2 separate regions of the Homo sapiens genome follow, and region 1 is linked to region 2. The links come from fine-mapping of genetic effects on gene expression. A gene starts in region 2. The other region holds a variant in brackets. All regions are shown on one strand. Distances are from middle to middle.

Region 1 (2,845 bases), 36 kb before region 2:
GTGGCCTCGAGAAAAAAACAAATTGAAAACAAGCATTCAGCTTAATTCACCTTTAACCACTCCCCATCCCTTTTCCTACCAAATGCCACTAGCAATACAAGATTTCATATCATATTACATCATGGAAGCTCAACCTTCTGGACTTTCAACAATGATCTACCTATGGAAGTATAATACAGAATTATAAATACTTTTACTAAAGAAAAACCGGACAAAAGATGTTGGTAAAATAAACTAACACAAGAACTTGCTGGTGAGAAACTCCTGCAAAATGTTTGGCAATTTATTACTATTTTTTTGGTGTTTTTTTTTTGTTTTTTCTTTTTTTTTGAGACAGCATCTTGCTCTGTCGCCCAGGCTGGAGTGCAGTGGTGCAATTTTGGCTCACTGCAACCTCTACCTTTTGCGTTCAAATGATTCTCCTGACTCAGCCTCCCGAGTAGGTGGGACTATAGGCAGGTGCTACCACACCCAGCTAATTTTTGTATTTTTAGTAGAGTTGGGGTTTCGCCATGTTAGCCAGGTGGGTCTTGAATTCCCGGCCTCAAGTGATCCGCCCTCCTCGGCCTCCCAAAGTGCTAGGATTACATATGTGAGCCACTGTGCCTTGCCATTTTATTTAATTAATTTATTTATTTTTATTTTCTTTTTTTTTTTTGAGACAGAGTCTCGCTCCGTTGCCCTGGCTGGAGTGCAGTGGTGAGATCTCAGCTCACTGCAACCTCCGCCTCCCAGGTTCAAGTGATTCTCCTGCTTCAGCCTCCCAAGTAGCTCAGATTACAGGTGTGTGCCACCACACCCAGCTAATTTTTGTATTTTTACAAAAACACAAAAATCCACCCACCTCGGCCTCCCAAAGTGCTGGGATTACAGGCATGAGCCACTGCGCCCGGGCCTAGTATTCTTAAATTGCAACCGGCAGCTCAAAGAATGGCTAAAGTTAAAAAGCCATTGAGATGGGGTTTCACTACGTTGGCCACGCTGGTCTCGAACTCCTGACCTCAAGTGATCCACCTGCCTCGGCCTCCCAAATTGCTGGGATTACAGGCGTGAGCTACCATGCCTGGCCTATTCTTCTTAAATTACAACTAGCAGCTCAAAGAATGGCTAAAGTTAAAAAGACAGCATTAAGTGTTGGTGAGTATATAGAAAAGTGAGAACTTTCATATGCTGCTGGCATGGTGTAAATTGGTACAACTATTTTAAAAACTGTTGGCAGTCTATCTACTAAAGCTGAACCCAGCAGTTCTACCTCTACATACATACCTAGCAGAAATGAACACATACGTTCACCAAAGACATA[T/C]ATGAGAATGGTTAGAGAAGCACTACTCATAATAGCAGGGAAACAGAAACAGCCTAGATGTCTATCAACAGAATGAATAGTACATTCCTACAATGCACTAATGCAGCAATGAAAATGAACAAACTGGCTGGGTGCAGTGGCTCACACCTGTAATTCCAGGACTCTGGGAGGCCGAGGGGAGCAGATCACTTGAGGTCAGGAGACCAGCCTGGCCAACATGGGGAAACCCTGTCTCTACTAAAAACACAAAAAATTAGCTGGGTGTGGTGGTGCGCCTGTAATCCCAGCTACTGGGGCGGCTGAGGCAGGAGAATCGCTTGAACCCGGGAGGCAGGGTTTGCAGTGAGCCAAGGTTGCAGTGAGCCAAGATTGTACCACTGTACTCCAGCTTGGGCGACAGAGCGAAACTGTCAAAAAAGAAAATGAACACACTACACATGATATGGATAAAGCTCAAATTATTATATTTCTATTTTATTTATTTATTTATTTTACTTTTTTGGGGTGATGAAATAGTTCTAGATCTTGATGGCGATTATACAACAGTATACAATTGAAACTACCTGTAAAGCGAGTCTGTTTTACTGTGTATGAATTATACCTCAAATCTTTTCATTTTTTTAATGAAGTAAAATAAACAACTAAAAAATAGTTGTAAGGGGAAGAGGAAGGAAAAAAAAAACACTTTAGGCTGAGCAAATGCCACTAGATATGCAAATGTGTATCACTATGTGATTCCGTTGACAGAGAGTTCAAAAACAGGCAAAACTGGCCAGGCACGGTAGTTCACGCCTGTATTCCTAGCACCTTGCAAGGCCGAGGCAGGAAAACTGTTTGAGCCCAGGAGTTTCAGATCATTCTGGGCAACATAGTGAGACTCTGCGTCTTAAAAAAAAAAAAAAAAAAAAAATTAGCCGGGCACGGTGACGTATGCCTATAGTCCCAGCTACTCAGGAGGCTGAGGTGGGAGGATTGCTTGAGCCTGAGAGGATGAGGCTGCAGTGAGCTATGATCACTGCACTCCAAAGCAACACCCTATCTCAAAAACGAAAACAAAAAAAGCAAAAACAAAACCAGGCCAAACTAATCAATGCTTTCAGAAGTCAGGATAGTAGTTCTTTTGGCTCAGGGGAGGCAGTGACTGGTAGAGGGCTTCTGGGTTGCTGCTTACACAGGTGCATCAACTGTGAACAATTCACTGAGTTTACACTTGATTTCTGTACGTTTCTGAATGTATGTTATTCTTCAATTACCAAAAGCTTATTTTAACAAAAAATTATTTATCTAAAATACAAATTTAACTGGCTTCTGTATCTTATCTTTTAAGAACAGCTTACTTTAAAAATTATCACAATTAGTCTGCTTTACAGAACATTTAAAGAATAGAAATTTTTCTCCCTTTTCTTAGGTATAACAGGACAACTAAGACTGCCCTGGCACCAGAGAAACTACAATCTAGATGTGCTCTGCTTCCAGTCGGCCGAGAAGCCTGCAGCAAATCACCTAAACACTTAAGGTCTTTGTGTGCCATCCACACCCAAC
Region 2 (2,912 bases):
GTCCTCACAATGCAGCTGCAGTTCTACATTTCTATCTGCTGGATGTTACAAGCTATATTTCTTACGGGCATCTTAACTTCCCCCATCCAAACCCAAACAAATCAACTTCCCCCATCAAACCTGTTCCTTTTTCTAATTATTTTTCTCATTTCTATTCAATGTTAATACAACAAATATTTATTAAGCACATGGTGTGTGCTTGACTCTAAGCTAGGTACTCACTAGGTAGTGTTGAACAAAACAAACATGATCCCTGCCCACCTTCCAGTCTAATGAGGAATACAGACATAAAATGAATAACTAAATGATTACACAAGTAATCCATTAAAATCACAGTGGCAGTATTATTTTCCTAATAACCCAGGTTAAAAATCTCACTCATTTTTGCTTCTCCTTCAACATTTATAACCAATCAGTAAGTCTTTGAGTTTTCTTTCACCATAACTTAAAAATCCATCACTTTCCTTCATTCCCACTGCTACCAATTTTGTGTGGGCCTTTATTTCTTGTCTGATCTACGGTCTCCTAACTGGCCTTCTTGTTGCCCATTTACGCCACCACACACATCACTATTAGAATCATCAAGTATTGTCTCATGCCACAAATGGAAAAAAAATTTTTTTCAGTGGCTACTGTGTAACTGCTGATGGGTGTCTTCCCTTACATGCCTTGTCTTTCCCTGGTTTGCCAACTTTGCTCCTACCAATCTATCTGCCTGGAGCATGCTTAGTCTCCAAAGAAAATATGCTTATTACTCACACTCACTTCCTTGAAGCTCCTAGATCATCACCCCAACTAGAAATGATCACTTACTGTGAACTCTTCGGGTACACTAGCTCTATCACTCATTTACCACCTGTGTGTGATAATTTGTGCTTCATACAGCTCCTACTGGAGTGGTAAGATCCCTAATGGCAAAGATGTCTTAACCATCTTTCCGTCCCTAGGGATGCCTGGCACTAATGGTGTCTCCCTTGCCTGTATGCGGGGTTGGGGGGTGATTTCCATTAACTCTCTGGCCAGGTTCCAAACAGCTCTTACTACTCCCTGGATTCATTCTGGACCTGCTGGGGAAGCGCCAAGGACAATACCAGGGGCCAAGAACAAGATCAAAGGGGCACGGCAAGGAAGAAATGTGCATCCAATGAGTGCTAAACTGTAGATGCGATAAAGGCGTCAGGCAAGCACTGACCTGCTCCAGCAGATAGATGAGCTGGTCTCGAGCCAGCCTCTTCAGCATGGAGAAGTCAGGCAGCTCAGGGGCGTCCGGCCGATGGGGAAAAGCCATGGCAGCGGTCACCTGCGCCGCGGGGTGGAAGGACGCCCTTCGTTCTGAGAAGGCCGGCCGCAGCCCAGGGAAGCGCAAGGGGGGCTATCCTTCAGGCCTGGGCACCGACTTCCAGAGACCCCAGATGGGCCCTCGCTCCTCAGCAGCACTCCAGGAATGAATGGCCACCTCCAGGCAAGAGAGCTACTACCTCGGAGCAGCCTTGTCTCAGACCTGCAGCCACCGTGTCTCGACCCTCCCTCCCTGATCCACTCTGCCCGTCAGCAGGATTCCGGTCTACACCCCGCAGAGACTCCGCAGCGTACGAGGAGAACCCCGCCTTCTACCAGAAAAAGAAGCGACTTCCTAGATCTCCCGGAAGTCCCTTTCGCTCCCAGCGCTTCGCGTACCAGGAAGGGGACGGCGTCCTGAAAGGGACATTTGAAAAACGGAGGCAACGCGTCTATTAATTAGGTGGCGGCGCCTGGGGTCGCAGCACTCCAGAGGCTGAGGTGGGAGAATCGCTCGAGTCAGGGAGGCGGAGGTTGCAGTGAACTGCGATCGCGCTACTGCACCCCAGCCTGGGCAACAAAGCTAGACCTTGCCTCAAAAAAAAAAAAAAAAAAAAAAAAAAAGACATAATGAATGCATCAGGCTAGCTAACAATACCTCAACTCTGATCAATCATACCATCATATCATTTCCTGGTGAGATGCATAGGAAATACAGAGCATCACCTATTGCCAAAAATTGAACCTAATCAAGCCTCAAGATCTAACTACCAGTTTATAGGCTATATAGAGATTAGCAGGAATATGTTAAGACACCAAAGGTATGAAATCAACCATATCCAAAATGTAGGAAATTATATGGGACAAATGATCTGTCGTCTTCAAAAAAATGGCAAAGTGGGAAATGTGGGAGGGGAAAACACTTCAGAATAAAAGAGATTTAAGAGATGTATCAACAAAATGTTTCAATGTGTGGATCTTTTTTGGATAATAATTCAAAGATAACTGATTTAAGGAATTACTAAAACTTTTCGGGTATTGTATTTCTTTTCTTCTCTTTTTTTTCCTGACAGAGTCTCGCCCTTTTGCCTAGTGGAGGAGCTCGGCTCACTGCAAGCTCCGCGCCACAACCCCCCTGCCGCCCCAGGTTCAAGAGATTCTCCTGCCTCAGTCTCCCGAGTAGACTGGGATTACAGGCGAGTGCCACCATGCCCGGCTAATTTTTGTATTTTTGGTAGAGACGGGGTTTCATTATGTTGGCCAGGCTGATCTCGAACTCCTGACCTCAAGTGATCCGCCTGCCTTGGCCTCCCAAAGTGCTGGGATTACAGGCGTGAGCCACAACGTTGGGCCAGGTATTGTATTTCTATGTTATTATTATTTTTTGTATTTCTATGTCATACAGGCTTGTATTTCTGTTAAAAACAAGTCCTTATCTCTTTGAGATACATACTGAAGTTTTTACAGGTGAAATAATTTGGCCAGGAGTAATGGTTCATGTCTCTAATTCCCACCACTTTGGGAGGTCCAGGTCGGGGTCGGGGGGTTGCTTGAGGCCAGGAGTTTGAGATAAGATTGGTCAACTACAACACATAAAAAATAGCCAGGCATGGTGGTGGGCACCTTTAATCTCG

Evidence for each region. PIP is the estimated chance that this variant, and not a neighbour inherited with it, causes the effect. A credible set is the group of variants that fine-mapping cannot tell apart.
Region 1: its variant is the best candidate, but not a certain one, in a credible set for the expression of VPS33B in whole blood (TOPMed, PIP 0.60).

What each region holds. Positions count from the first base shown.
Region 1 is chr15:90,984,919-90,987,763 of GRCh38, forward strand. All of the region lies in intron 1 of PRC1 (protein regulator of cytokinesis 1), which reads right to left. It overlaps PRC1-AS1 (PRC1 antisense RNA 1), which reads left to right. Exons shown (of 4, transcript NR_051984.1): 4 at 2,712-2,845. Among named protein-coding and RNA genes, the nearest start is that of PRC1, 8.2 kb to the right of the region's middle. The variant T/C (reference allele first, on the strand shown) is at 1,304.
Region 2 is chr15:91,020,962-91,023,873 of GRCh38, forward strand. VPS33B (VPS33B late endosome and lysosome associated) reads right to left here and starts at 1,633. Exons shown (of 23, transcript NM_018668.5): 1 at 1,193-1,633. The coding sequence starts at 1,288. VPS33B-DT (VPS33B divergent transcript) reads left to right here and starts at 1,661. Exons shown (of 4, transcript NR_110104.1): 1 at 1,661-1,779; 2 at 2,352-2,912. RefSeq lists enhancers at 717-1,333, 1,188-1,597.